Homo sapiens: one gene and its partners. The protein of the gene in region 1 interacts with the protein of each later gene in a pairwise test. Each region holds a gene or a part of one and is shown in the gene's direction. Other genes may lie near its edges.

Region 1 (4,736 bases):
GGCTGGAGTGCAGTGGCACAATCTCGGCTCACTGCAACCTCCACCTCCTGGATTCAAGCGATTCTCCTGCCTCAGCCTCCTGAGTAGCTGGGATTACAGGTGCGCACCACGATGCCCTGCTAATTTTTGTATATTTAGTAGAGACAGGGTTTCACCATGTTGGTCAGGCTGGTCTCGAACTCCTCACCTCGTGATCCGCCTGCCTCAGCCTCACAAAGTGCTGGGATTACAGGCGTGAGCCACCGTGCCCTGCCAATAATACATAATTATCTATCTTCATTCTAGCTTCAGAAAATTGTGGATGTACCATTAGAGCATTGTTTTAGCAGTATGTTTTCTATATTAGCTAACTTTCTATAGCCTGAATATCTCCAGTTACATAGTTTGAAATAAGTGAACACATCCTCCCAGTGTAACTTGAAGCAAACTGAACAGACTGTATAACAGCCCCTGAAACTGTCGTTTGAGTATCTGCAGTGGTAGCAAATTTTATTATTTGTAAATAATCTGATTTTTATTTTTATTTTTTTGGAGGCAGGGTCTCATTTTGTCACCCAGGCTGGAGTGCAGTGGAGTGATTACAGCTTACTGCAGCCTCAACTTCCTGGACTCAAGCGATCCTCCCACCACAGTCTCACGAGTAGCTGGGACCACAGGTGCATGCCACCACACCCAGCTCATTTTTGTATTTTTGTTAGAGATGGGGTTTCAGCATGTTGTCCAGGCTGGCCTTGAAGTTCCAGGCTCAACTGACATTCCCACCTCAGCCTTCCAAGTGCTGGGATTAATATGCGCGAGCCACTGTGCCTGGCCAGAATCTGATTTTTAAAAAGAGTAAATCTGATGGGTAAAAGTAGGGCAATAGAGCTGGATAATACCAGTTAGGAAGCAATAAAGATGAGGTGTGACCACAAAGTAAGAAGTTTTTGCTTTGTTCTTTTTTTTTTTTTTTGAAACGGAGTCTCTCTCTGTCACCCAGGCTGGAGTGGAGTGCGGTCGCGCGCTCTCGGCTCACTGCAAGTTCTGCCTCCCGGGTTCACGCCATTCTCCTGCCTCAGCCTCCCGAGTAGCTGGGACTGCAGGTGCCCACCACCACGCCCAGCTAGTTTTTTGTGTTTTTAGTAGAGACGGGGTTTCACCATGTTAGCAGGATAGTCTCAATCTCCTGACCTCGTGATCCGCCCGCCTCGGCCTCCCAAAGTGCTGGGATTACAGGTGTGAGCCACTGTGCCCGGCCTTTTTTTTTTTCTTTTATTTGAGATGGAATCTCACCCTTTTGCCCAGGCTGGAGTGCAGTGGCCAATCTCGGCTCACTGCAACCTCCTCCTCCCGGGTTTGAGCGATTCTCCTGCCTCAGCCTCCTGAGTAGCTGGGATTACAGGTGCCGGCCACCATACCCAGCTAATTTTTTTTTTTTTTTTTCATATTTTCGGTATAGACGAGGTTTCACCATGTTGGCCAGGCTGGTCTTGAACTCCTAACCTCAAGTGATCCGCCTGCCTCAGCCTCCCAAAGTGCTAGGATTATAGGCATGAGCCACCGCGCCTGGCCTGCTTTGTTCGCCTGCTTTGTTCTTAATGTGGCTCATAAAGGCTATTCCAAAAAAGAAGTTTTGGAAATGTTTTTCAGCAATGGTGATATCACTGGAATATGCATATATTCCTGAAATGATCAGTTTTAAAGAATCATTTGCATGTTTTAAATTTTGAAGCCTGTTTACTTTGTGGTCATACTTGAAAGGTCTGCTATCGAACTACCAATTTTTAATAGCTTGATGAACATTTAGGTTTTTACTATGTGCCAGGTTCTGTCCTAAGTACTTTACAAATATTAGCTCACTTCATAAGCTCATTCTAATGATTATCCCCATTTTACAGGTGAGGAAATGGGGCACTGAGTCATTAAGTCACTTGCCCAAGGTCACCCAAGTAGTGAGTAGATGCATCAGTAGCGAGTCTGAACTTCCAGGTCTGACTTCAGACTTGGGCAGTTTGGCTTCCCGGTCTGGGCTCTTAACCACTATGCTATGCTGCTCCTATGACTTATTCTTGGTTAAATGTTTTAAATTGTTTTGATCTGGAAGAGATGATGGTCCTTTTAGTAAATGATATCCAACATAGGTTATAATACTGTTAGAGGGGCCAATAAGCGGGTTATGAAAATAGCCTATTGATTAGAAAAGTTGTGGTCAACATTCAATTCACATGAGATTCAGCAAGAAAATAAAGAATGTGACCAGGCGCGGTGGCTCATGCCTGTAATCCCAGCACTTTGGGAGGCCGAGGAGGGCAGATCACGAGGTCAGGAGTTCGAGACAGCCTGGCCAACATGGTGAAACCGTGTCCTACTAAAAATACAAAAATTAGCCAGGTATGGTGGTGGGTGCTTGTAATCCCAGCTACTTAGGAGGCCGAGGCAAGAGAATTGCTTGAACCTGGGAGTCAGAGGTTGCAGTGAACTAGGATTGTGCCACTGCACTCCAGCCTGGGCAACAGAGTGAGACTCCATCTCAAAAAAAAAAAAAAAAAAAGAATGTGTGTGAAGTAAAATAATTTTGCTAGAATTACTTGACACTGAATGTAAGTAGTTGGACAAAGAGGATGCAAGGGCTAGAACTAGATTCTCAAAAAGTTTCATGCAAAAGGCTATTTAAAAACCTGAGTTATCAGGGGACACTCATGGAAAAGTTGGTGTTGTATTAAGAATATGTCCCTGTACAAGAACCAGAAGTCAGAGACAAATGGATACTCGCAATACATCCAGAGGGGTAAACAATGCTATTCCTCAGGGATTACTACTTAACTAGGTGCTCTTCAAAGCATTAACTGCTAGTATGTCCTCTGATACTATATAAATGGGTCAAAACCAACAAAAAATACCCCCACATGGAAATGTTTTGAAGTGGACTCCTGAATAACATTTAGAGATTCAAAACAATCCTAACTCTTTTCGTAGAAGAATTGGCCCCACATTCAAACACCTTCAAATAAATGTTAGATGCCAAGGAAGGTATCTAACAGTCATTAGGAACTTCCATAATGATACCGGTTCATGGGCCACACTACTAGCAATATCATCAAATGCTGCACAGTAACAGAAAGAGTACTGAAAACTCAAAAGAAAAATGATCTGACCAGTGAATAAAATGTTCAGTACAGAAGCAGCACTAGGCACTCAGCCCCAGAAAGGCAGATAGGTAATCTAGGGGCAATACAAAGCATAACAAAATATTTAAGGGACTGAGATGGCTGCCAAATCATTATAGGCTAAAAAGGCAAGAAATAATCACTTTGGGAAGACCAAGGCTGAGAGGTATTATCATCAAAGGCTACAAAACCAGAGGGGACATAAAAAAGGAGAATACAATTTTGTTCGCCAAATCCTGGAACCTTCCAAGAGAGCAGCACATGGGACTCAGGGCAAAGCTAAGACCAAAAACAGGAAGTTCATCGATGGCTATAAAGTTATGGAACTTATCCCAGTTGCTTCAAATAAGATAAAATCAATACATTACAAGTTTTAGACTTGAAATCATTAACTTACAAAATGCTTTATATAAGGATCAGGACTTTCTTCTATTGCTTTTTTTATTTTCCTGAGCTTTTAAATTTCTCTTTTTCTTAGTGACAGTAGAGTAACATGTCTTCACCACAACCTCAAATATATCTAGCTTCTCACTTGTGCTCTATGCTATCTGTTCTATGGGATTCCTTATTTTTCTTGGTGTCATCCGTCTGAAGCATTCTATGGGCCTGATGGACTAGGCTTCATCCTGGGACTTTTCATTGCAGCCCTAGGTTGGAGCCCCTATTTCCTGCATCCCATGCTGTCCAGGTCATGGTTTTCTCCCTTCTTTTGTACTTGTCTCAGGAAGTGTGTAGGAGGTAGCCCTCCTGACCTTTTTTTTTAAGTCTTTGTCTAGTACCTTCTGAGTTCTTGTATAAGAAAAAATCTCATTTCCTGAATTGTCTGTTTCCTCTCAGTTCACTAGGTCCTAAAATTTTCTTATTCATGCTACTGGGTTTTCTTACTTGTCAGATGGCTCTTGGTTGTCCATTTATATTTCAGGGCCGGATAATGATGATTTGAGGTAGCTAGTGTGCAGTGGTTATCTCTAAGGTTCTTCCCAATAAATCCCATCAACTCCCTATTCTTTGATGTGGAGCCTGTACTGAGCCTATGTCAGTGACTGAATGTGGCTGCCCATGTATCGGATTAATAATTTTGTCTAACTGATAATGATAGGTTTTCTAATATTGATTTAATATATGGTGGTACATTGTAAGGTGGAAGTAAACTACCCGCACATCTTTTTGCTTACTCCATTCCTGAAGTAGGAATTCAGATGTTAATAAAGTGGTACTTTGAAAGTCAAGAGGGAATATTGAAAGGATGATTATAAATCAGTTCACATATTTATTTATTTATTTTAGAGACAGGGTCTTGCTGTGTTGCCCAGGCTGGAGTGCAGTGGCACAATCATGGCTCACTGCAGCCTCAAAATCATGGCTTACTGCAGCCTCATTGCTTCTGGGCTCAAGCAGTCCTCCTGCCTCAGCCTCCCCATGTGTTGGGATTACAGGCATGAGCCACCGTGTCCAGCCTCAATTCAAATATTTATTGAACTTCCACTGTGTTCTATGTTTGATGATGTGGAGAGATTTAACCGTTCATTCCTTTAAAAAGATTTTTTTTTTTTTTTGCTAAACCTTCCTGAGTGGCTTGTGCTAGATAAA
Region 2 (4,142 bases), on another chromosome or scaffold:
TCATGGCATCTCCTTTGTAGTAAAAGGAGACAGACCATTAATTTCAGCATTTCTTTGTGATTTATAAGTACTGAGCATGAAGTACTTGTCTGCCCCTCATTTCAAGGCCAGAGTTATTTTCTATTTATGTATTAGTCTAGGCTGATCTTTTAGGGCACAATAGAAACCATGGGGCGTGGAGCATGAGTTGTGAATGGCAGGGATCATTCTGGGTAAAAAAAACCTAGAATCATTTCTGATGTGCAACATTGTCAAGTGAAGAAGCTAACAGTTCAACTACCGAGATTATTTGATAACCTGGGTTTTCTCATTCATCCATCAAGCACCATCAACCAGTCAGCCATTATTATTTATATATGTATTACCAAAAGCAGTCTATCTGCCTGTGACCTCCAATGTACACTGCCAAACACAAGAGTAGGACACATCTGTTCTGGGTTCTTGACCTATCTGTCTCCAATTCATCTCCCCTTTTCAGCCATTTCAACAAACTACTCTTTGGAGCTCTGAGATGACATCTTGTTGTTTTATATAGATGTATCTTTTAAAAATAGTTCACGTTTGGAGAATTCTTTTGTACTCATTTGCTTTTTGTCTGAGAACCATGTCTATTTTTATAACTGGAGTGTGAGTTCTGTATCTTCTCACATTCTGTATACTGTATCCATTTTCTAGAGAACCCAGTAGCTTTTATACAGTCTCTTCTTACCACCCCTTGTGGTTTCAGAACAAGCTTTATTTTATTACGAGTATATTAATGACAACTAATTCCTGTTCCAATTCTACCTGTTTTAGTTGTGAAGGTAGTTTTGTGTAATCCAGTTGATTGCTCCTCTGGCAGAGAGAAGGAGCTCAAAAGATACTTGATGTCTTTCATGTAAGTTTACCTGGTCTTTTCCTATTGAAGAATTTTTCATCAGAAACGACTGGGAAAGTTTGGGAAAGTCAGCAAAAGAAAGAATGCATTTCGAAAGCAAACAGAAGAAAAAAGTATATTCTCACAGTTTTTCCCCAGGAAGTCTGGAGAAAAAGTCCTCATGTCACCAATTTCTCTGTTGCATGAATTTTAGTGTTTTGCTATAAGACAGCATGAGGGCTATCAGGCCAAAATTCATTATTGTATTTCCAATACAGTTTGTCTTGAATGTCTGTCTCTTAAACCAGTTTTTACTTGTCAGTTTTCTCTCAGCAAACAGTCTTACTATTATGTGGAATTTAACTTTTCAGAGAAAATTTCCAAAGTCCTCTACCTTATTTGGCTTTTATCTGTGTCTTTTGGAAAAGGAGCTGCATGGCCTCAGTGCCTCCATAAAAAGCTTAAGTTGAGTTCATGGGAGAACATTAAGATCGTTTTTTTTCCCTTTTAGCTCGGTAATCTCATGTACCACAGGTAATGACCAAGCATCTCTGCTAGAGGATGTAACTCTCATAACTCCTGTGTAAAATGAGGATCCTGTTGGTGATCCTCATTCCAGTTTCCAAAGCGAGAGGAGCCTTCTGAGCAGAAGTATGCAAGACTGATTCTGTTTGGAACAGTTTCCTATTTGGCTGCATTCTAGGAGGCCTCCTGACTTATTCATAGTATTGTCGCCTGGTGGCATTGGTGTGGGGTAGCTTGTCCTGCTACTTGCTAAAGTTCTCTTTCTTTGAGAAAACTGAGGAACCAGAATGCTTAGAGTTCATAAAATAATCTCTAAACCATGTTAGGTTAAAACAAAATGACCATCTCACAAAAACGAGTTTAGTTGAATGCTCAATTCCTTACAAAATCTTCATTTAAGGCTGAGTGTGGTGGCTCATGCCTGTAATTCCAGCACTTTGGGAGGCCGAGGCAGGAAGACTGCTTGAGCCCAGGAGTTCAAGACCAGCCTGGGCAACGTAGGAAGACTCCGTCTCTACATAGAAATTTTATTATAAAAGTAGCTGGGGATGGTGGCACACACCTGTAGTCCCAGCTACTCAGGAGGTTGAGGTGGGAAGATTGCTTGAGCCCAGGAGTTTGAGGTTGCAGTGAGCTGATCATGCCACTGCACTCTAGCCTAGGCTACAGAGCAGGACCCCATCTCCAAAAAAAAAAAAAAAAAAGTCATTTAAAAACTGAAGAATGTTCTCTTCTTGCTCAGTTCCCTAAATTAGCTGGGGGGATTGGGATACTTTACAATTTTTACATTTTTAAATTTGAAGAATTTGTTTTAAACTTACTTGGTAATGGCACTTCTACTTACTGACCAACTTTTCAGCTCTTTTTGACCAGGATGGTTGCAAATTAGGGAAAATATCTTTATACTATACATCCAATTCAAGAGGACTTTAATTACTTAAAAGCATTTAGGTCATAATTAAAATTATTTTCACTGTTTCCATAAAATAAGCATTATGATTGCACACTCCTTCTACTGTCTGAATTTATGTAAGAGGTATAGCTTGCTTAAAATACATATATATGTAAAGTTATATTTTCTTAGAAACATGGATGTTTACAGCCATTGCTTTCAAAGAGATTATTACTGTGTATTCTCCCTGTTTTACAATATGTTTTCATGAAGACTATGTTACACCAGAGGCTTCTGATTATCAAAGTGATAACCAGTTTTAACTGCCGGTATGTACCAGATTTGTGAACTAATTTAAAAAACCACAAACTATGAATAAAATGGGGTTTGCAAACTAAATATCATTAATGATTTTCACTTGCGTTTACTGATGAGATTAATCAATAAAGCCATTTACATTTAGTGAAAGCAAATTTCCTCAAGTGATCTCCCTGGTAGCATGTTTACTCACTATGTGGAGTGGAGATAAGAATTACTTTATTGCTACAGATATTTTACAATTAGTATTTCTATGTAAGCACATAGGCTATTATCAAGGACAATTTATTTAGCACTTATTTTGAAATTATATGTAAACATGCAAACAAATAAGAACCCAAGAGTATAAACTCTATGACAAAAGTCAGTATGCAAGCATTAAGAACTCTTTCAGAAATGTGTATTTAAAATGACCAGAATTCCCAGATCATTTGAAAGCTGCCTCTTAAATGCCTCTTATCAATTCATCTTAAATGTTTGCTATATTAAATTCTTTATCCCTGAGTGCCTTCATTTGACTTCCAATTACGTATTTTCAACTATTAATTGGCTATCCCATTATGTTAAAATTAAATATGTACATAACTCAAAATCTTTCACTACCAACTAATTTCTGTTTCTCTCAATATCAGTGATATCACCATTCTCTTAAGTATCTCTATTTCAAACCTTTGAGTCTTGAGTCTCCTTTTCCATAATTTCCTTTATCCAGTCTGTTTAGTGGAATTCAAGCTTGTTCTCTCAGGACTGATTTGAGAAACCTAAGCATTCCTAGCCCACCTCTGGGGTAAGCTCGCCATCTCTGGACTGTTTGAGCTATGCATTCCTATAATTTAACTACACTTAAGTCAAAAGTATATTCAAGACACAAACTCGCTATTCTTTGAAAAATGCAAAACAGGGTTTAAGCAAGCATACCTAAGTGCACAACAGATCCGGAAGATCACCTCATACTTTATACCAAAGTCTAATTTAGATCCAGTTATTAAGTTCAAATGCAGCAAAAGCAGCAAGATATTTTAGCCAACTCAAAAACATTTTTATAATAATTTATAAGTCCTGGGCGGGCATGGTGGCTCGCGCCTGTAATCTCAGCACTTTGGGAGGCCGAGGCAGGTGGATCACCTGAAGTCAGGAGTTTGAGACCAGCATGACTAACATGGTGAAACCCCGTATCTACTAAAAACACAAAATTAGCTGGGCATGGTGGCACGTGCCTGTAATCCCAGCACTCGGGAGGCTGAGGCAGGAGAATCGCTTGAACCTGGGAGGTGGAGGTTGCAGTGAGCCGGGATCATGCCACTGCACTCCAGCCTGGGCGACAGAGTGAGACTCCATCCCCAAATAATAGTAATAAGTCCTTTCAGTAATTACAATTATTCTTTCATTGCTTCTTCCAATTGTTAATTCATAAGTTGTACATAATTGTAACAATATAATTGCTCTCTTCATATTATTTAAAATATGCCTTTTCATTCAATCTAGAAATTTTATATTTCTCAATTATATTGCTTACATATTATTCTGATAGACAGCTGTACCTGCTTAAAC
Region 3 (4,736 bases), on another chromosome or scaffold:
TCATCGGAACAGCCATAGTTTACTGGCCATGGTATATCTGACACAATCATAGAGCTTTGTAATGAAAACGACACCAAGGCAGGTACAGGGACAGAGAGCATTGTTATCCTCCTTTAGACTTGAAGGTTAGGCATATCCCTTCTCTTAGTATGTACACATTTATTCATAATTCTGTCTGGAGTTTTTATTTTCTTCCTGTGTCCCATTTTGTGAATAATTTGGTCTTGGGCATATACTATGATATTTTTCCTGATCTGTAAAATGATAAAGTTAAATTAGAGGCCTGAAGTGCTTTCTAGCTCATAAAGTCTATGTTAATGAATTTCAAAGATTTGCCTATTATAAGACATTCTATTTGTATTCTTTTTTTTTTTTTTTTTTTTTGAGACGGAGTTTTGCTCTGTCGCCCAGGCTGGAGTGCAGTGGCGCGATCTTGACTCACTGCAAGCTCCGCCTCCCGGGTTCACGCCATTCTCCTGCCTCAGCCTCCCGTGTAGCTGGGACTACAGGCGCGCGCCACCATGCCCGGCTAATTTTTGTATTTTTAGTAGAGACGGGGTTTCACCGTGTTAGCCAGGATGGTCTAATTTTATGTAATTATATGGCACATGCAAAGAAGAAATCAAAGTGACATAGTGCATAGAGTTGAATGATGGTCAGGTTGGTTAGGAAAAGAATCAGTGATATAACTATGAGCAACTCAGATGACAAACATCCACAGAAAATCAGCCCTTACTATTTGCCTGATCCTGAGAATTGATGGTGTTTGGCACCAGGCAGATGGTGAAGGTATTACAGAAACACTTTGCACATTAGTAAGTTTACTTTATTTCTCACATAGGATATTACTGGTCCACTTCCCTCCTTTTTTTTTTTTTTTTTAAACAGGAATCTCTATCTTAGACCATTTTGATTTCTAAAATAGCAATATTTCTTATGTGACTATTTCATTATTGTGCTGCTGCCACCTGGTGGCCACAGTAGTGATGTCATACTTCAGTTTAATTTCTTTTTTTATTGCAAAGACACTATTAAGCCAAAAGATAGGCTGATATATTTTAAGATATAGAATACTGTAAAATATATAAAGGTTGCACATCGATTGTGACTCAATTGATTGCCACAATGTCTAGGTTGAATCCAGGACTATAATTTTTAGTTTATCATAGTCAAGTTATTTAACTCTCTAAGCCTGTTTTCTCAAAGTAATAGTATCTGTCTTTTATGAGTATAGTGAAGATTGATTTAGACAATGTGTACAAGGCAGCTGTTGAACATTCAGTAACTTAACTTCTAAGTATATTATTAAATAGTCATAGAAAATATATTAATGTATATTACTAAATATATTAATGTTTAAGAATAACATGACCTAAATAAGTATAATTTTACTAATGATAATTTTGAATAACTGTGATAGCACTGTCAATAAGAATAGCACTTTCCTACATGTTAGTTAAGTATCCGTGTATGGTTGTCAGGAGCATGCTACTTACAGTGGACATTTAATTGGCTGTTAGAACCCATGAAAAAGCTGGAAGAAACCTTAGAGAATATTGTTCATGCCCCTCATTTTGCAGATGTTAAAACAAGTCCGAGAATATAAAGCTAGTTAGTTGCAGAGTAGGACTGTATCCTGGGTCTCCATCTAGTGTGGTGTGGACCGTGTACTGCCTCCCAGTTCTCCTAGAGTGGACCAAAACATGGAATCTTGGTTGCATTGTAGTTGGACTGTATTGTGATTTGAAAGTGGAGTAAAACATGGGAACCTTTTTCTTTAGGTTTTTATTTTTGCAATTTTGGTGTAATATGTAGGATAAACCAACTAGAAAAAAAATCCTCCCTGTCACGTTTGTGCACAAATAATTTAATACTCAGTTTGTTAGTATCTTTAAAAATAGATGCAAATAAGGTGCAGTGGTTCTATTTTCCAGTCTTCTCATTCTCCTCTGTGTCTCTGGAACACCCTGGGCATGTCTCTCACTATATTTATCACACTGGGAAAGCCTTTTTGGCTCATTTTTTTCTGTCCCATACTAGACTATTAATACCTTGAAAGGGGCCATATCTTTCATCACTATATATCTAGTTGTTAGTACAACATTGAATTACGTGTTGAGTAAAATAATCTACTTCTTACAGCAGTATAATTTTTAGATGAGGATTAGCCCAGGGGCAGAACCTCTACACCACAGTCTGGTTATTGTCTTAAGGGTTTAAGGAAAAAGCATTTTGGAATGAAAAGTGGTTTGACATTGAACATTTTGAAGATTTATTATAAAAGGCGAGAAGCATACACATATTAATCAACACTACTGAGTTTAAGGGTCCTCTTTCCTTTCTCACTGTCACCTTTCTTCATGGTGTATCTTACCCTTTATTTTATATTTATTTATTTATTTATTTATTTATTTATTTATTTATTTGAGATGGAATCTCTGTCTGCCACCCAGGCTGTAGTGCAATGGTGTGATCTCGGATCACTGCAACCTCCGCCTCCCGACTTCAAGCGATTTTCCTACCTCAGCCTCCCCATGGCTGGAACTACAGGTGCATGCCACCATGCCCAGCTAATTTTTTTTTTTTTTGGTAGAGGCGGAGTTTTACCATGTTGGCCAGGCTGGTCTCAAACTCCTGACCTCAGGTGATCCGCCTCCCTCGGCCTCCCAAGTTCTAGGATTACAGGCGTGAGCCACCGCACCCAACTGTATCTTGCTGTTTATATGGCAGTCTTCTATCTCCCGTTCCCTCTTTCTCTGCTAGACCCTTCATGTAGTTCCCCAGCTGTGACCAGTTTGCATGGGGGAGAGGGTAGGTAAAAGAGGGAGGGGAGTTAAGTTCAGCCAAAATAATCTGCCACGTGCCATGTTGAAATGCTGCGTTGAGCTCTGCAGCTGCAGAGATGAATAAAATTGGGTTTCTGCCCTGGAGGGATGAATAGTCTAGTAAGGAAAAATAGTATGTAAAAAACTCACTTCCAGTGTGGTGCAACTCCTATGAAAGAACGTATTAAGCACTGGGAGCAAATGAAGTGCAGAGGTGGGAGGGCCCTGTGGCTGCCTTTCGGTGGAGAGAGGATGTTGCATGCAGGAAGCTCTATGAGCCTGTCTTCAGGAGTGAGTAGGCTTTCCCATGATAGACCAAAGAGTTTAATCTCAGTACACTTCGCATTTTTTATACTATCTCTTTAATTTTTAAAAAGCTATACTTTCCCTCTGACATGTGTGAACCCATTTCTTTCTCATTTTGTTAAGGGAGTTTGTGTATCCGTCTGCTAGAGAGATCCCACCTCCACCCCTGCTCACCCGACATTAGGAATTAGGCAAAGAACAATGAGATATTTGATATTTACACGGAGAGAGTGTCAACCGCAATTCAGATATTTTTAAGTTATTCTGTTTTAGTCCGAAATAGTTTGTTCCTAGTATTCCTGAAGTGATGTTCTTTGACTGCTTCTACAGTCATCTTAAGAAGTGCTGCATTTTTTCATTATTATGTATGCTTTCATTCACATTCTTAAGTTGTAAGTTAGAATGTTAGAACTGAAGAAATGAATTGTCTCATGACTGATATTTTTTTCTTTGTCAGTTGCCAAAACAAAGGGGATTTGGTGATGGAGGCTTTGTTAGAAGGAATACAAAATCGAGGGCATGGTGGGTAAGTTTGCTTTTTTTAAAATTAATTTTTTTGGTTAATACATGATTACATATTTATAGGGTTCACATGATACTTTGATACATACATATAATGTGTAATGATCAAATAAGGGTATTTAGTATACCTATCAGCTCAAGCATTTATCATTTTTTGTGTTGGGAACATTTCAATTCTTCTAGCTACTTTGAAATATATAGTAAATTTTTAAAGTTTAAGGAACCTTACTGTGCTAGTCACCCGACTGTGCTAATTACTTAACTAGTTACATACTAGTTACTTAGTAGTCACCTTACTGTGCTATTTAACACTAGAGCTTACTCTTCTACCTAACTGTATGGTTTGTACCCATTAACCAAACATTCTTCACCCCCAACCCCTTCCCAGCCTCTGGTAACCATCGTTCTACTCTCTACCTCCATGAGGTGAACTTTTTTAGACCCCACATATGAATGAGAACATGAGATATTTGTCTTTCTGTGCCTATTATTTCACTTAACGACCACCAGTTTTATCCATGTTGCTGCAAATAACAGGGCTTCATTCTTTTTTATGGCTGAATAGTATTCCATGATGGATATATTTCTGACATTTTCTTTATCCATTAATCTGCTGTTGGACACTCAAGTCAATTCCATATCTTGGTTATTGTGAATAATGCTGCAATAAACATGGGGGTACAAGTATCCCTTTCACATACTGATTTCCTTTCCTTTGGATAGATTACCCAATAGTGTGCTTTCTGAATCATATGTGTTGTGAGTGGTGCAAAGTCAGACATAACCAGGTCCATACATGTTTGTGTCTTTTCTACAAGAGCAAACTTTTATTGATGCTATTTCAGTCATAAAAGCCACAAGCTACATGGAGTTCCCAAGGAGGCATTTCCCCCTAGTACTACCAGTTCACTCAATAGTCAGAGCCATGGGCATACAGGCTCAAGCCTCTCCACAAGTCAGTCAGTATTGCAAACCATACATAATAGTGTATTAATATATGTAAATGTTGCAGTGTAAACATTCCACATCAAACAAAGTAACATTTAACAGGAGAAAAGGATAGAAAAAAAAGGGGGGGGGGGC
Region 4 (3,951 bases), on another chromosome or scaffold:
CTTCTGATGGAGAAGCAGTGAAGTTCAGAACGTTCTTCACATAGTCCAGATACTGTTAGAGTCAGGCAAATCAGCAAAGCACTTTGTTATGGAGATGACCCATGATGGCTGCAGTTGTAAGTGGGCATACATGTTCTATCATTTTGAAGGAGAAAGAAAACCGTTCTCACATGTTGCAAATATGTGAATCATACTATATTCCCCTAAAGTAAAACCAGTGACTTAGTGGTTTTTGGTTTATTTAGAAGTTGGTTTAGACCCTTATGAAACATTATTTACGAGTTGGCCTTATCCTTAAGGGAAAAGTTCTAAATTTTTAAATTTATTTTTAATTCCCTAGTCTGAGGGAAATGTCTTTATTGTCCATTACATAAAAATGTTGACTCCAGTAATTTATTTTTCTCTATTTTTTCCTCCATGTATTTACTCCATTTTTCTCTATTTTTTCCTTCCCTGATGGATTTGCAGAAATGTTAACCAATTAGCTCAACTTTTCTCTACCTTTGTTGAGTCTTAATCTTTTAGAAGATAGGCTTATCGTATATTTATGAAGCATAATATATTAAAAGAAAACAAATCTAGGATGCTTGCATGACATAAAGTATTTGCCTGCAGTTTTCATTAAAAACTGCAAGAATATCATGCTTGTCTGCTTCTTAGTAAATGTTAAGTCTGAAATGGAAGTGAGGATGTAACTCTACTGAATAATCAAAGATCATCTTAGATTTGGCTTGATCTGTGTTTATTGCTTCTATTAATGTAAATCAACTCTGTGCCAAATCCTCCTCCACAAACCATTTATTGTCTTAGTTCTAGTGGTATCAATGAAGATAGTTACAGTATATGAATTCTAAGTCCTGAGGAAGAAATTTTATGGGGTTTGTTAAGTTTCACATTCGTGAAAGAGGAAATTAGTAGAGTATTCAGACTTTGATATTTGGCTGTTAATGGGATGCATATCAAATTTTTAAAAGAAGGCTTGGCCTAAGGAGTTTATTGGTACAGGTGCAGATGATTTTAAGGCATTAAAGGATTATAGAGTTATGTCATTTAGACTGTTTCTAATAACTGAGACCATCTAACATTTTTCTTTTGGAGTCTCATTTTTATTTGTGCAATATTTTCAGGCATATAGGCTACTGTTCATTGTATTTATATATATATTAGAATTTACTAAGTACTTTAACAAGTAAAAATCTGAATATGAAAGAAAATATCAGATTTGCACTTTAAATGAGCTTAATTGCTTGAAGTTGTGCCTGAAATATCGAATTGCCTCCTATTGGGTGTGGCTTTGTTGAAATAAATTTGTAATTGTTGCTGTTTGAAGATATCAGTACAGCTGTTCACAGAAATATATTCCCAGCATGTCACTTTTCCATTAAAGCACTAAGTTTTCTTTGAATGTTCCATTGTTCCGATAAGTATTTTACTTTTTTCTCAGTACATCAGAGAGAGCGTGATCCCCCTACAGCTGTCACTTCCAAATGTTCCTGTAGCATAAATGGTGTTACAGACACTGAGGTGCACTCTTGGTTTCTGAGCAGAGTTGTCATACTGGTTTCCTGGTCTCTAGGGCACTGGGGATGTACTTTGAAATCACCGAACAGGCTTGCAATTAAGATCAATAAGGCTGCAGCACCATTTCAATTTACTTTCCATCTTACCCAGTAGTTTTTGTGTTTTTAAATTCGTTTGGGTGGTTATGTTTGCATGCTTAAGCACACATTTGAAAATTAATTATAGCTGTACTACCCGATGTTTTTCCTTGGGGATGATGGCCTTGTTCCTTTTTAAATTCTGATGCTTGAATTCTATTTTCTAGTGATTTTTCACATCTCCCTTTAAGTTTTTGCTGCAGCAATTTGAGAGAGTACTTTTGATTAAATGATTCTGATGGTGGGCACCAATCTACAACTATGTCATTAACTGAAGATACATGTTTTAATCTTGTTGGGAATAAGCTTACCCACTTTCTCCTTGGTAAAGCGTTTACTTAACAAAATAATACCCGAGAATGTAAGGTCTCTAAGTCATTACTAACAAAGAGCAAAAATAATATCTGCAGTATTGTTTTTCCCATTGATTTTAAGTCAGTTTAGAGTACAAACTGTATATTAGAATTTGCCTGTAAAATGAATTCTAAAAAGCAGATGTAAAGTCTCTCCTGAAAATGTTGGCATAGTAAATAAAAATAAAGTTCATAATTATAAAAGTTCTCTTGTCTTTCTCAACATTGACTCCCATAGTTTGCTTTTTCTTTGATATCTTTTTTCCCACAAAGATCTAAGATACTGTTCATTTGCTTATGTTTTTCCCAACTCTGATACTTTATTTTACATGCTGCCTTCACACACATCTTGACACCCCAAGCCCTGATTGAGTAGGAGTTGATCAGTATTTTGTTGTTGTGTCTTCACAAATTCTGTAAGAGATCTAGTACTTTCGTTTCCATTGTAATAAAATACCTGCTTTATCTTAGAATATTGGGATAATGGTTAATGGACATTTCAAGAAACATTAGCACCTTGGATTTAGAATGCTGTACAAGGAAGAAAACACTTGTAATTTTAATTATTTTGTCATTGTTTTTAAGCAGTATACAAAATAGCTTGAGGCAAGAAAGGTGTTTAGTGAAATTTTACATAATTTTTAGGAACAAAAGGAGTAAGGAATATATATTTTTTCAGTTTTACAGTTTAGTCAGATGCGATAGTCCCGTAATAAGAGACAAAAAAGTTGATGCAGTGGTATGTTATTAATCCAAAATGTTTACACGAATTCTGGGAAAGGAGGGAAATTTTATTAATAGTTTGATAATAGCACTTATTACCTCTTAAGACACCTGTATGAACTTTAAGGCCATCTGAGTTCTTAGTGTTGCAGAATTTTGCTCCTTAGGTCGGCTAAATCGGGGTTCTTGTGTCAGGACCAGGAAAATGTAGACACATGGACACATTGAAGTGTGTGGGGAATGGAATTCATTGGGCAAAAAGGAAAAAAAAACTCAGCAAAGCAAGGGGGGAATCCTGCTAACAGGCCCCCACCTCACAGATAAGTTCCAGGCCACCACACATGTGAGCTGAAGAGCTCAGGCTCTTCCCTCCTGCCCAAGGCTGGAACTTCCCGTGGCTCCACCCAGTTCTCCCAGTGCACAAGCTGGTTGGAGATTCTCTGAGGACCCTCCCCCTTATTGGCCTTCTGCATCTATCATTAGCAAGTACTTTCTTATACTAAAAATTTTCCCTTTTAATTTTGTCATTAAGTGTAGTCATTTCAGTTTCTTCATTTATGCTGTTGATTGCGCGTTTTCCATTGTGAAAATATTTTATCCCTACAGAAAAGACAAGCATGAGTTAAAGAATTGACTTCTTCCTCTGTTAACTTGGTTTAAGTAAGTTTGATGGGATGTCTTACCTGTGTCACTTGCTGTGCTGGCTGCAGGGTGTACAAAGGTAACGATGATACAGGTTCTGCCTTATGGAGCTTAGGAACCCTAGGGGATTTTTAACATCATCCGATCCATTGCAGCACTGAGCCCTTCCCTTGCATTCCCTGTTTATTATCTTCCTTTGAACCTACCAGTCTCTTTTGACGTTTCCTCTTCAGTTTCATTTCATTCTGGGCTTTAACTCCCTTGCACTATTCTCCTCTTGGATTCTATATTATGTTTATTCTTGTTTGGTTGCATGCCTTCATTTCCCTAGAAAACCTGGCCTTTTATTATTTTATCCAAGAACGAACTTCCTCTTTAGCCACTATTAAATACTCTGCTTTCTACTTTAGGTTCTTGGAATTTGATTTTAAGACTTCTCGACTATCCTAAGGCCACTGTCCCTTTTAGAACCTCAACCCATAAGATGTTGCTTTCTGAAGTCTACCTTTAACATTCAAATTCATGTCCGGGCTTTTCCTTCCATCCCATTCTCTTGGATAGATCAAATATAATAT
Region 5 (4,736 bases), on another chromosome or scaffold:
AGTGTCTGTCTGGAGCATGACTTTACCACCTTTTGCAGTGATTCTAGTACTAATACGGCATTCACTCTTCATTCATGCATGCATTCATTATTAAAAAATGATAACTGCTTGGAAGGAGATGGGCTACCTGTGCTGTGAGTAACTATGATGGGAAACTATGGCCGGGTCAGGGATCTCAGAAAAGTTTCCCAGAGGAAGAGGGACAAAGTGTGAGTGGTAATTAACCATGTGAAGAGGGAAAGAGGAGCATATGCAGAATATCTTGTCATGCATTTTCTTTGTTTATAGGACCTATTTCACCTGAAAACCTTATGGCAAAATATTATTTTTTTCTTAGCTTTTATTTTTGGTTCAGGGGTACACATGCAGGTTTGTTTTACAGGTAGACTCATGTCATGGGGGATTGTTGTACAGATTATTTTGTTGCCCAGGTACTAAGCCTAATACTCAATAGTTATTTTTTCTTCTGCTCTTCCTCCTCCAACTCTCCACCCTCAAGGAGGCCTCAGTGTCTGTTGTTCCCTTCTTTGTGTTCATTTGGTTTTCTGTTCTTGCATTAGTTTGCTAAGGATAATGGCCTCTAATTCCATCCATGTTCCTGCAAAAAACCATGATCTCATTCTTTTTTATGGCTGCATAGTATTCCATGGTATATGTGTACTACATTTTGTTTATCCAATCTGTCACTGATGGGCATTTAGATTGATTGCATGTCTTTGCTATTGTGAACAGTGCTGCAATGAACATTTGTGTGTGCATGTGCCTTTTTTTTTTTTTTTTTTGGTAGATAAGGGATTTTGCCATGTTGCCCAGGCTGGTCTCGAACTCCTGAGCTCAAGTTATCCACCTGCCTTGGCCTCCCAAAGTGTTGGGATTACAGGCATGAGCCACTGTGCCTGGCCATGCATGTGTCTTTATGGCTGAATGATTTATATTCCTCTGGGTATATACCCAGGAATGAGATTGCTGGGTTGAATGGTAGTTCTGTTTTTAGCTCTTTGAGGAATTGCCATACTGCTTTCCACAATGGTTGAACTAATTTGCACTCCCACCAAAAGTGTATAAGTGTTCCCTTCTCAACTTGGCCAGCATCTGTTATTTTTTAACTTTTTAATCATAGCCATTCTGACTGGTGTGAGATGGTATTTCATTGTGGTTTTAATTTGCATTTCTCTAATGATAGTGATATTGAGCTTTTTTTCATATGCTTGTTAGCCACATGTATTTTTTTTTTTTTTTTAGAAAAGTGTTCATGTCCTTTGCCTACTTTTTAATGGGGTTGTTGTTTTTCTCTTGTAAATTTAAGTTCCTTATAGATGCTGGATATTAGACCTTTATCAGATGCATAGTTTGTAAATATTTTCTCCCATTCTTTAGGTTGTCTTTTTACTCTGTTGAGTTTCTTTTGCTGTGCAGAAGCTCTTCAGTTTAATTAGATCTCATTTGTCAATTTTTGCTTTTGTTGTGATTGCTCTTAGTGTCTTTGTCATGAAATATTTGCCCATTCCTGTGTCCGGGATGGTATTGCCTAGGTTGTCTTCTGTGGTTTTTATAGTTTGGGGTTTTACATTTAAGTCTTTAATCCATCTTGAATTAATTTTTGTATATGGTGTAAGGAGGGGGTCCAGTTTCATTCTTCTGCATATGGCTAGCCAGCTATCTCATCATTTATTGAATAGGGAATCCTTTCCCCATTGTTTGTTTTTGTCAGCTTTGTCAAAGATCAGATGGTTGTAGGTGTGCGGCTTATTTCTGGGCTCTCTATTATGTTCCATTGGTCTATGTGTCTGATTTTGTACTAGTACCATGCTGTTTTGGTTACTGTAGCCCTGTAGTATAGTTTGAAGTAGGGTAACATGTTGCTGTCAGCTTTGTTCTTTTTGCTTAGGCTTGTCTTGGCTATTTGGGCTTATTTTTGGTTCCATATCAATTTTAAAATAGTTTTTTCTAGTTCTGTGAACAATGTCTTTGGTAGTTTGATAGGAATAGCATTGAATATGCAAATTGCTTTGGGCAGTATGGCCATTTCAATGATACTGATTCTTCATATTCATGAGCATGGGATGTTTTTCCATTTGTGTCACTCTGATTTCTTTGAGCAGTGTTTTCTAATTCTTTTTTTTTTTGAGATGGAGTTTCGCTCTTTGTTGCCCAGGATGGAGTGCAGTGGTGCGATCTCAGCTCACTGCAACCTCTGCCTCCCAAGTTCAAGTGATTCTCCTGTCTCAGCCTCCTGAGTAGCTGGGATTACAGGCGTCTGCCACCACACCCAGCTAATCTTTGTATTTTTAGTAGAGATGGGGTTTCACCATGTTGGCCAGGCTGGTCTTGAACTCCTGACCTCAGGTGATCTGCCCGCCTCAGCCTCCCAAAGTGCTGGGATTACAGGCGTGAGCCACTGAGCCCAGCCTTCTAATTCTTATTGTACAGATCTTTCACCTCCCTGGTTAGCTGTATTTCTAGGTGATTTATTCATATTGTGGCAATCGTGAATGAGATTGCATTTTTGATTTGGATCTTGGCTTGGCTGTTGTCAGTGTATAGGAATGCTAGTGATTTTTGTATATTGATTTTCGTATCCTGAGAGTTGGCTGAAGTTGTTTATCAACTGAAGGAGCTTTTGGGCCAAGACTATGGGGTTTTCTAGATGTAGGATCATGTTGTCTGCAAACAGGGGTAGTTTGACTTCCTCTCTTCCTATTTGGATGCCTTTTATTTCTTCCTCTTGCCTGGTTGCTCTGGCCAGGACTTCCAATAGTATGTTGAATAGGAGTAGTGGAAGAGGGCCTCCTTGCCAGTTTTCAAGGGGGGAATGCTTTCAGCTTTTGCCCATTCAGTATGATGTTGGCTGTGGGTTTGTCATAGATGGCTCTTATTATTTTGAGGTATGTTCCTTCAATACCTAATTTATTGAGAGTTTTTAACGTGAAGGGATGTTGAATTTTTAATGAAAGCTTTTCTGCATGAGATAATCATGTCATTTTTGTCTTTAGTTATGCTTATGTGATGAATCATATTTATTGATTTGCGTATGTTGAACCAACCGTAAATCCTGGCGATGAAGCCTACTTGATTATGGTGGATTAGCTTTTTGATGTGTTGCTGGACTTGGTTTGCAAGTATATTTTTGAGGAATTTTGCATCGTTGATCAAGGATATTGGCTTGAAGTTTTCTTTTTTTGTTGGGTCTCTGCCAGGTTTTGGTATCAGGATGATGCTGGCCTCATAGAATGAGTTGAGGAGGCGTCCCTCCTCCTTAATTTTTTTGGAAACCAGGGGTACAGACAAAGTACCCTGTACACCCAACAGTAATCCCACAGGAGAAGGCAGAGGCCCCAGGCCATTTAATCAGCAGCAAGGTGATTATGTGATATGTCTTTTCACAGTTGAGTTAGATGTACTCCACCAGTTATGATGGGAATCAATTTAAATATACTTTCTTGATCCCAGAAATTCAAGTATGTGGACAGGATGTTACACATGGCAGGATGATTGTTACAGCGCAACTAACATATTTCAAATGGACAAAAAATTAGTATAATTTACAGTATCTTAAGATAAATTTCCTTTGAATGGGAGCTTCCTTTCTAGTCCTTTGAGGTCTACAAGGCATATCTAGAAAATTTACTACTGTGGAAGATGAAGACTGTTTAAATTGAATGGGGGGCAGGAAGGGGAAGGGCCTATGGTTTTTCTTTTTGATTAACTGCTGTAACCCTGTCCTTCAGGCAGCTGAAGGAGTGTCACATTTTCTTTAGACATCATTAGGCACCAAAGCTCTTGTAGGACAACTTTGATGCTACATGAATTCTGCCATTTTGCTAGCACTGATATGGCTTTTTGGTCCACCACTCCATTACAACTATTAACCCTATTTATATTAATTTTTGTTACAAATCTTACAAAGGCAGGGTGCTTCTGGGCATTTAGGATACATTCTATTTTAAGGCTGTATACTTGATTTTCGTAAATCATTCTTGGAGGCCCAATTATCATCCCTGTCCATCTTGTCCCAGGTCTTCATCATCTTCTAAACACCAGCTAACTATGCCACCTCCTACCTTTTTCTGGCCTTCTTCGAGTTCTTCCATCAGTTGGAAACTTCGAGAGACTTTTACTCCTGATCCTGTGGTGACTGCCATCTTGCATCACTGTTGCCCCATGTTTTGTATAATGAAAAAACTGAGCAATAGAAAGCAGGTAGTGATATAAGAAGTCAACACCGAGAAATAAGAAAAACAGAAAGCAAAGGGAAACTAAGCAGGACAGTATGTACTTCAGAATCAATTATTGGTTGCCACCTTTCAGAGGATGGAGAAGATAGGTATTATACTTTGTTATCTTTTGAAATGTGGTCTTGAAACTTGATTTTTAGGGGTGGTTAGATAGATTCATTAATTTCTGAGACTTTGTTTCCTTTTACTGTGGTAAGACCAACAGTCTGGTTATTCTTTTCAGTTTATTTACAAATGTTGGAGTAATAAAGAAGGCAGAACAAAATGAGCTGGGCTTTGGAAGAATGGAAAGAAGGGCTGCCTACAAGAGCTCTTCAGAAAATTCAAGAGCTTGAAGGACAGCTTGACAAACTGAAGAAGGAAAAGCAGCAAAGGCAGTTTCAGCTTGACAGTCTCGAGGCTGCGCTGCAGAAGCAAAAACAGAAGGTACCCCTGAAGCTCTGGTATTTGTAGCTGTTCACTCATTATTGACAGAGAAGTGCTGGTATTTAAAACTGTTCA
Region 6 (4,736 bases), on another chromosome or scaffold:
CTCAGGCATCTCAGGATGCCTCAGCATCCTGAGTAACTGGGATTGCAGGCATCTGCTAACACACCTGGCTAATTTTTGTATTTTTAGTAGAGATGGGGTTTCACCATGTTGGCCGGGCTGGTCTCAAACTCCCAACCTCACGTGATCTGCCTGCCTTGGCCTCCCAAAGTTCTGGGATACAGGCATGAGCTACTGCACCCAGCCTACAATAGTTACTTTTGACTACAGGATTTTGACAACCAGATTTGACTGCTTGATTCTTTGCAAGATTTCTCAGGCAAACGTAGTGATGAAAGTGGGTAATGTTTTGGAATAGATGGCTATCTAGGAGATTATGAATTTTCTGATTATAAATCAGCATATCCTAATACATTCTTTCTCTGTTTAAAAGTAAGACTTGAGGCCAGGTACGATAGCTTACACCCGTAATCCCAACACTTTGGGAAGTCGAGTCAGGCAGATTGCTTGAGCTCAGGAGTTTGAAACCAGCCTGGATAGCATGGCAAAACCCCGTCTCTACAAAAAATACAAAGAATTAGTCAGGCATGTGGCATGTGCCTATAGTCCCAGCTACTCGGGAGGCTGAGGCAGGGAAGGTTCACTTGAGCCCAGGATGTCGAGGCCGCAGTAAGCAGAGATTGTGCCACTGCACTCCAGCTTGGGCAACAGAGTGAGACCTTGTCTCAAAAAAAAAAAGTAAGACTTGAATGAAGGATTGAACAGTTCAGTGCTTCCGAAGTAGAATATTTTTCCCGATAAAAATCTCAAGGTGTTTAAATCTTAATTAAACAAGTCTATTTAGCTAGAATTTACCTTTCCCAGATGGAGGCATTACTTTAAATAACCTAGTGTTTGTTTTCAAACATGGATGTTTTCAATTTTCACTCATCTAGTAGTATCTTTATTTTCAGGTACTGAGAAACTATAATACTGGCTTGATTATGTAGTCAGAGTAAGCATATTCAACCAGAAGGGTCTCATTGCCCTTGTGGTTTTATCTTAATGACCGTCTCTTGATAAGGTACCATGACTAAAAATTATTTGAGGATTTGAGTAGATCCTATAGCCAAATAAGCCCATAGTAAAAATAGCAAAGATTATTTTGAAAATAAAGTGTCTTTCTTATACTTAAAGAAACAGTTCATAATCTTTAACCCATACCCAAAATGAAACAAGTGATAGGTGAATAGTTCCACAGAGCTATATTGTCAGATAAATAATTTTTTCAGAGTAAGTTTAAAATTGTACTGAAGTAATCTTACTTTGTTTTTCACGTAGGTTGTGGTGGAATTAGAAAATGTAAAGTCAGAGTCAGACCTACTGAAAAAACAACTTTCAAATGAGAGACATACAGTTAAAAACCTCGAATCATTGTTGGCTACAAACAGAGATAAAGAATTTCATTCTCACTTAACCTCCCACGAGAAGGATACAGAAATCCAGCTACTTAAGGAGAAGTTAACCCTTTCTGAAAGCAAATTGTAAGTGTCTTAAGTCAACTTATGCAAAGACAATTGCTTGTGAAGGATAGTTTTTTAATTTTTTTGAAGTGGAGGAAAGGTTAAGAGTATGAAAGATAGGCCAGGTGCAGTGGCTCACACCTGTAATCCCAGCACTTTGGGAGGCCAAGGCGGGTAGATTGCCTGAGCTCAGGAGTTTGAGACTAGCCTGGGCAAGATGGCGAAACCCCGTCTATACTAAAAATACAAAAAAAAAAAGCCAGGCGTGGTGGCACACACCTATAGTCCCAGCTACTCAGGAGGCTGAAGCGTGAGAATCACTTGAACCCAGGAGGTGGAGGTTGCAGTGAGCCGAGATTGCACCACTGCACTCCATCCTGGGCGACAGAGCGAGACGCTGTCCCAAAACCAAAATATTTGGCTTATACATCTGCTGCTTTTGGAAATTTAGGAGACTGACTCGGGAGAAACATCGTGTTGGGAGGTGCAGACCTGTATATCTTCACTACAGAGGTTGTACCGTGGGAGTAATGAGAAGAGAAAACGTTAGGAAAGCGCCTACAGTTGAGGAATGGACAGAGGAGTCAGTGAAGGAGAAAGTGTTCTCGGGAGAAGAAGAGGTGGCTGTGTCTTATGCTGTAGATTAGGAAAAAGGACTCTAAAAAGGCTATGAGATTTGACCCACATACATGTATTGATTACTTTGGGAGAGACTGATTATGTCATATTTTTAGAATAGAAGGATTTAGACATATTTGTAGGAAGAGGGAAAGAAACCCAGAGTAGAGTACACATGGAAGAATGAGCTTTTGAAAGGTATTAAAAATATTAATATTTCTCTTTCCAAGGCAAGAGTCAAGAAAGAGCCAATGAAGACACTTTACATCTTGGTGTTACCATTTATGTCTCGTTCAAATTTGTATCCCTAGCATTGCTTTAGTGCTTAGCACATAATAGATGTTCAGTACATGTTTCATAAATAAACTAAATGAATGAAAAAGAAAATGTGATAAAAGCTCTAGAAGTTTAGAGAATTCTTGTTGAAAGGTCTTGATCTTCTCTTTATTAATTTAAAAAACCCACAGCACCTGACTCTACAAAACGGAACGTTTATTTCTTGATTTTTTAATTTGTTTTTAAGAACTAGTCAAAGCCGGGAAAACACCATGCTTCGAGCTAAAGTGGCACAGTTACAAACAGATTATGATGCTCTGAAAAGGCAGATCTCAACTGAAAGATACGAACGGTAAGACAAATTTTTTTTACATTTGACAATGTTTTTATGTGTTCTCTATTGTACTTCAGAAAGTATTTAATATGGCTTTACAAATAACAAACTTTTTAAAAAGCTAATACATAAAGTACATTTCTTTGGTAATTCTTCCTTTTAAAAAAGGCAACAAGTGTTGGGGAAGATAATAGCTCTACAGTAACTAAAATAGCAAGTATTACATAGCGGATGCTATATAAATATTTATTGAATAAAATTGTTTAATAATCTGAAAAATAAGGTAAAATAGGAAGTATTGGATAAATATTTCCTATAGCATTCCGCAGGACAAAATTAGAATCCAAAAGTATTTCAAAGAGTATAGAGAAGCAACAACAATCCCTATAAGAGCTCCAAAATGTATGGTTCAAGTAGGATGTTCCACATACAAATCATAATAAAGGTAATGATTTGAAGATAGTAACAGCAGTTAACAAATGTGGACCAGACACTATATAAGTGTCTGATGAATCCCACCAACAATCTATTATTATGCCTACCTTATAGGAAACTGAGATCACATAAATAGTAAGTGGTAGGAAACCAAACAGATTTTAATTCTAAAACCTGTACCCTTAACCTCTTCAATGTATTCCCTACAGCTTGGTAATTTTCATATTCACTCATATTTTGGTTCATTTGCTTTACGTTGAAAAATTTAATCCCCAGGTGTTACTAACCCGGATTGAGACCTGCTTTAAATCGAAGTCTAACTTGAAAATCAGTTGCCAAGTTACTTGTCTTCCATTACTCTTTCCTACTATATTAATACCATAGACATCTGCATTCCTGAGATTTCATTCTCAATTAGTGGCCAAATTGCTTGTTAGATCAGTTTTTGAGTTATTCTTACCTATTTACGTCAAAACTTTGTAGTGATGTGCTATTTGAAGTATAGTGACAATTTGCTATGAAATCAATATTTACGATTTCATAAAGGCCTGGCTTGGTGGCTCATGCCTGCAATCCCAGCACTTTGGGAGGCCAAGGCAGGTGGATTTACTTGAGCCCACGAGTTTGAAATCAGCGTGAGCAACATGGCAAAACACCATCTCTACAAAAAAATTTTTGAAAATTAGCTGGGGCATGGTGATGGGTGCCTGTAGTCCCAGCTACTCAGGAAGCCGAAGTGGGAGGATTGATTGAGCTCAGGAGGTTGAGGCTGCAATGAGCTGTGATCGTGCCACTGCCCTCCAGCCTGAGTAACAGTGAAACCCTGTCTCAAAAAACAAACAAACCAACAAAAAAGTAAGCCGTAGGTAGCAGCAGTGACATGAAAGCAGGATTGATAATTTCTTGTAATTTAGAAGATCTAGTTTCTGAATGTACTAAACTGTACATATATAATGATTTCCATTTCTTAAGGATAACTTAAATTCTCTGCAAATCAAAAGTCCTAAATCAAGCTCTCTATTGCCCAGGCTTATAGACTTCCCCACAGTTCCTCCCCTTGTTCCTTGCCTCAACGAAACCTTGAGCCTCATGACCATGTCTTTCTTGCTCTTTACTATCCACCTACATCATACATTCTCATCGGTGCAGTATTACCCACCATCCTCCAAGGGAAAAAATTGTTTCTTGGGGGTAGGGAATAGAGGTAGCAAAAAAATTTTAGGTTGTATAAGTTAGTAGAATGGTTTATGTCCCTCCAAAGGGCCACAGGACATAAGCAGTGTATTAAAATTTCATGGGATGGAGGGATAATCTGGGGAGGAAAAAGTCTAGAAAAGTTCCTTTGGGAGAGTAGTACTGAAGAAATCTTGAGAAGCACTGAACTAATTAGAAATCTCAGGTACTGAAGAACTCAAGTTCTTTAAGAGTCTAGGCCAGAGACTATGAATAGCCCACAAAGGAGATGGCAACATAATCCCCATTCTTGGTGGGGACATACCCAGACACAGGGAAGGAAAGTATGATGGAGAAAATAGGATTCTTTCCAATCTGACTTTTGGGAGTTTTGAGACAGGAAGACGGAAGAGGGCTAGATATATGTGCAAGACGATATG
Region 7 (4,736 bases), on another chromosome or scaffold:
CTCCAGGGAAAGTTCTACCGTTTATATTCATAACAGGAATGTTATTTTTTCTGGCCACTGATGGCAAAATAATTAATTTAAAAATTAATACTTATTTTTAATATGTTTATTAGCTACATTTATATTTTTTGTGAGTTACCTATTTGTGTCCTTTGCCCATTTTCTAGATTTTTTTGTCTTCCTTTTTGATGTATAGGAACTCTTTCTATATTCTGGAGGTTAATCTATTATCCTATAGGTTATAGATAGTTCCTTTCAATCTGTGCTTTTTTTGAACTTTATTTATTCTGCAAAAATTTGTATTTTTACCATGATTATATTTGACAGTCACTTTTCATTATAGCTTCTAGGTATAGGGTCTTGCTTTAGGAAAGCCTTTGTCATACACATATTATAAAAATAGAAAATTGTTTTAGAAAAAATATTTTTTATTTGTGGTAGGTGTTGATCCTATTATCTGGGAACAGGCCAAGGTAGATAACCCTGATTCTGAAAAGTAAGTATGTCTTCATCTTGTTTCATTTAAGAACTAATATTTGCTACTAGGAAAGCAAACATGGGAGCTATTAATTATAATTCTTACATATGAGACAAGTTTATTTTCATTTTCCTGGCCTTTAAAAAATATTGATTATTGTCCAGCTAAAGCTTCAGCCAAAACAAAAAGAAAAAAATAAGAAAAAAAAAGATTATGGTAAGGCAGCATAGCATAGTGAGAACTAACTAGGAGCGGAAAATTCTATTTGCGTTTTCATTTAATAATGTAATGTTTTGACTGAACTGTATTTCCTCATTTGTAAAATAGGGAGGTTGAATAAAATCTCTTTGGTATAACATGGTTATCTCATAGTCATAGATCTGCCTTAGAGCCCTAGAAAGTTGATGTAAAATTACATGAGTGTTACTAAAACCTTCACTTCTTGTATTTTGTAGTAATAGGCTTAAGGTCTGAAAATTGTTCACTGCGTTTCTTCAGGTTAATTCCTGTACCAATGGTGGGTTTTAAGGAACTTCTCCGAAGACTGAAGGTTCAAGATCAGATGACTAAGCAGCATCAAACCAGATTAGATGTAAGCATTTAGCTTTTTATTCCCTGGCCCTGGAAGTAGGGAAAGGGATTATAGACATTTAATTCTTTTTAGTATATGTGCTACTGTTTTATCTTAATCAGGAAACAATGTAGCATACACTGCAATTTAATAGTTTTATACAACTACCTTCTTTATGATAGAAGTCCCCAAATCACATGAATCTGATTTGATATAATAATGAATTTAGAATTCTTGTCTTAGTGGATTAATTAGACTGTCATTTCCAGTTTCAGCCAGGGATTGCATATTATTATTTATGGGGCCTTATGAAAATGAAGGTTATAGTAATGATTATTTTATGTTGACATATAATTGTCTTGGTATATTATTGTATGTTGATAAAATTAATGCTTAAATATACTTAATATTTTATTTCATAAAGTAGACTTTTTTAGGAGACCAGGGTGGGTGGATCACTTGAGATCAGGAGTTCAAGACAAGCCTGGCCGACTTGGCAAAACCTGGTCTGTACTAAAAAATTCAAAAATTAGCTGGGTGTCGTGGTGCACGCCTGTAATGCCAGCAACTTGGGAGGCTGAGGCATGAGAATTGTTTGAACCCGGGAGGCAGAGGTTGCAGTGAACAGAAATCGTGCCACTGCACTCCAGCCTGGGCGACAGAGTGAGACTCCTCAAAAAAAAAAAAAAAAAAAAAAAAAAAAAAAAAAACTTTCATAATTAAATACTTAAAGATTCTTAAAGGTCAGAGAAATTTCTATGATTTCAATTCTTTTAACTTTGCTAAGGTTTTTTTTTTTTTTTTTTTTTTTTTGAGACGTCTCTCGCTCTGTCGCCCAGGCTGGAGCACAGTGGCGCGATCTAGGCTCGCTGCAAGCTCCACCTCCTGAGTTCACGCCATTCTCCTTCCTCAGCCTCCGGAGTAGCTGGGACTACAGGCGCCTGCCACCACGCCCGGCTAATTTTTTGTATTTTTAGTAGAGACGGGGTTTCACCGTGTTAACCAGGATGGTCTCGATCTCCTGACCTCGTGATCCACCCATCTCGGCCTCCCGAAAGTGCTAGGGTTACAGGCGTGAGCCACTGCGCCCGGCCAACTTTGCTGAGGTTTTATAACCCAGGAGCCTATGAAAATAATGTGTATTCTGCAGTCCTTGGGTGAAGTTTTCTATTAATGTCAGTGAGATCCAGTTGGTTGATAGTATTGCTCAGTTCTGTATTCTTGTTGTTTTTTCTGTCTGCTAGTTTGAGAAGAGATTTGAAATCTACAGCAACACTTACGGATTTGTGTTTTTCTCCTTTCATTTCTCAGTTTTTGCTTCATGTATTAATAGTTTGAAGGGCTGTTGTTATATAGGATTGTTGTGTTTTCTTGGCAAATTTACCTTTTATTATTATATCATATCCCTCTTAATCCTCGGTAAGTTTTAAATCTTCTCTAATGGCCTTTTCTTTTATTGTTTTTAATCGATACATAACTACATATTTATGGGGCATAGTGTGATAATTCAATACATGGATATAGTGTGTAATGATCAAATAAAGTAATTAGCATATCCATTACCCCATACATTTATCATTTGTTGGTATCATGGGAAATTCACTCCTATAGCTATTTGAAACACAATAAATGGTTGTGAATTATAGTTACCTATAGTGCTATAGAACACTGGAACTTAATCCTCCTATCCAGCTGTACTTTTGTATCTGTTAAGCAACCTTTGGCAGTTCCCTACTCCTACTCTTTCTCCACCTCTAGTAGCCACTATTCTACTCTTTTCTTCTACTAAATCAACTTTTTTTAGCTTCCACATATGAGTGAGAACATGCAGAATTTATCTTTCTGCACGTGGCTTATTTCACTTAACAAAATGTCTTCCAAGTTCATCTATGTTGCTGCAAATGGTAGCACTTCATTCTTTTTCATGATTAAATAGTATTCTATTGTGTGTGTATATATGTGTACACATACACACCATGTTTTCTTTATCCATTCATCTGTTCATGGACACTTACTCAAGACACTCAGAAGTCTTTGTCTGGTGTTAACATAGCCACGCTACCTTTCTTTTGATAAAAAGTGTTTGTATGGCATACCTTTGTCCATCTTTTTGCTTTTAACCTACCTATATTGTTATATTTGAAGCGAGATTCTTGTAGACAGCAAAAAGTTTGGATTTAGTCCTACCATTTATTTGTTTTGTGTTTGTAGCCTCTGTTTTTCATTCCTGTTTCTACTTTTCTGCTTTCTTTTGAGTTATTTGGACTTTTTTTTTTTTTTCAGCATTTCCTTTTAATCTATTATTTCAAGTCTTAGAGCAGTACTTCTTAGTAGTGGCTTGTGGTGGTGGTGGTGATTTTGTCTCCCAGAGCACATTTGGCAATGTCTGGAGACTCTTGGTTGGGGAGTACTACAGGCGTCTAATGTGTAGAGGCCCAGATGCTGCACACATTCTGCAGTGTACAGAACAGTACTCCCACAACAAGGAATTACCCAAGATTAATAGTGCTGAAGTTGAGAAACCTTTCTCTAGGTAATACGATGTATCTCCTCCCACTATAACTAGCAGACTTCCCTTGGAGCTCCCTTTCAGCATTTATGCTCATTTCCAGGTTTGAGGCTGGGTTGAAACCAGACTAGGGACGCCTGAGGGGAAAAATGGGTAAACTCACCACAAGTTTATTGGTACTTTAAATTCCTATCTTACCTGATCTTCCTGCCAGAGTTCCCAAATAGCTGCCCCGTGTATTCCATCCAAGTTTTATAGCTATATTAAATGGGAGAGATTGGGGTTGTATATGCTTAGTCCATCTTGTCCAGAACTGAAATCATTCATATCTTTGGCCAGTGTTTCCACTGGGCTTCCTATTTTTTCTTTATTGAACTTCAGTAATCATTTACTCTAGATTGTAGTCTCTGTTTATAACGTTGTAAATATCTTCTAGTTTCTCATCTCTTTGTTAATTCTGTCTTTGGTGTCTGTAGTTGAAGAGAAATCCTTAATTTTAATGTAATGATATCCATTAAATGTTTGCCTTGTATTTTCTTTTTGGGAATTTGCTTAAATAATTTTTCACCCCAAAGTCTGAGAGTATCCTACATTAAAAAAAATTTAGAGTTTAACCTTTCACGTTTGAGTCTTTTGTTGTCATCATGAAGTTTACCTTTATATAAAGTATGTGGTATGAACTCAGATTTATTTTTCTCTAAATAGTGGGTCCATTTTTTTTTTTTTTTTTTTTTTGAGATGGGGGTCTCGTTCTGTCGCCCAGGCTGGAGTGCAGTGGCGCAATCTCGGCTCACTGCAAGCTCCGCCTCCTGGGTTCACGCCATTGTTCTGCCTCAGCCTCCCAAGTAGCTAGGACTACAGGCGCCCACCACCACGCCTGGCTAATTTTTTGTATTTTTAGTAGAAATGGGGTTTCACCGTGTTAGCCAGGATGGTCTCGATCTCCTGACCTCGTGATCCACCCGTCTTGGCCTCCCAAAGTGCTGGGATTACAGGCGTGAGCCACTGCGCCCAGCCCTATATTTTTAATATTGCCTATAAAAATATGATATTCCTCAATGATTATCAAAGAATTTAAATTACACTGTTTGCATATATATATGTGATCTATTTCTAGACCCTCTCTTATGTTTCATTGGCCAGTTGGTCTGTTCTTATACCCACCCATTCCACATTTT

The links.
Region 2: the proteins of NDEL1 (region 1) and DIXDC1 interact in binary tests that used the Homo sapiens proteins (3 or more experiments, as listed by UniProt).
Region 3: the proteins of NDEL1 (region 1) and CEP63 interact in a two-hybrid assay, tested with the Homo sapiens proteins (2 studies listed by BioGRID and IntAct).
Region 4: the proteins of NDEL1 (region 1) and CCSER2 interact in binary tests that used the Homo sapiens proteins (3 or more experiments, as listed by UniProt).
Region 5: the proteins of NDEL1 (region 1) and CENPF interact in binary tests that used the Homo sapiens proteins (3 or more experiments, as listed by UniProt).
Region 6: the proteins of NDEL1 (region 1) and CEP135 interact in binary tests that used the Homo sapiens proteins (3 or more experiments, as listed by UniProt).
Region 7: the proteins of NDEL1 (region 1) and NUP54 interact in binary tests that used the Homo sapiens proteins (3 or more experiments, as listed by UniProt).

What each region holds. Positions count from the first base shown.
Region 1 is NC_000017.11:8,438,003-8,442,738, forward strand, and holds part of NDEL1 (nuclear distribution protein nudE-like 1), read left to right. Parts: intron 1-4,736. UniProt on the Homo sapiens protein: Required for organization of the cellular microtubule array and microtubule anchoring at the centrosome. May regulate microtubule organization at least in part by targeting the microtubule severing protein KATNA1 to the centrosome.
Region 2 is NC_000011.10:112,019,913-112,024,054, forward strand, and holds the end of DIXDC1 (dixin), read left to right. Parts: 3' UTR 1-2,741; downstream 2,742-4,142. UniProt on the Homo sapiens protein: Positive effector of the Wnt signaling pathway; activates WNT3A signaling via DVL2. Regulates JNK activation by AXIN1 and DVL2.
Region 3 is NC_000003.12:134,491,708-134,496,443, forward strand, and holds part of CEP63 (centrosomal protein of 63 kDa), read left to right. Parts: intron 1-3,588; coding exon of another isoform or gene 3,589-3,613; coding exon 3,614-3,657; intron 3,658-4,736. UniProt on the Homo sapiens protein: Required for normal spindle assembly.
Region 4 is NC_000010.11:84,516,303-84,520,253, forward strand, and holds the end of CCSER2 (serine-rich coiled-coil domain-containing protein 2), read left to right. Parts: 3' UTR 1-2,215; downstream 2,216-3,951. UniProt on the Homo sapiens protein: Microtubule-binding protein which might play a role in microtubule bundling.
Region 5 is NC_000001.11:214,609,256-214,613,991, forward strand, and holds part of CENPF (centromere protein F), read left to right. Parts: intron 1-764; exon of another isoform or gene 765-4,324; intron 4,325-4,458; 5' UTR 4,459-4,499; coding exon 4,500-4,661; intron 4,662-4,736. UniProt on the Homo sapiens protein: Required for kinetochore function and chromosome segregation in mitosis. Required for kinetochore localization of dynein, LIS1, NDE1 and NDEL1.
Region 6 is NC_000004.12:56,018,075-56,022,810, forward strand, and holds part of CEP135 (centrosomal protein of 135 kDa), read left to right. Parts: intron 1-1,278; coding exon 1,279-1,481; intron 1,482-2,601; coding exon 2,602-2,706; intron 2,707-4,736. UniProt on the Homo sapiens protein: Centrosomal microtubule-binding protein involved in centriole biogenesis. Acts as a scaffolding protein during early centriole biogenesis.
Region 7 is NC_000004.12:76,126,990-76,131,725, reverse strand, and holds part of NUP54 (nucleoporin p54), read left to right. Parts: intron 1-441; coding exon 442-496; intron 497-976; coding exon 977-1,070; intron 1,071-4,736. UniProt on the Homo sapiens protein: Component of the nuclear pore complex, a complex required for the trafficking across the nuclear membrane.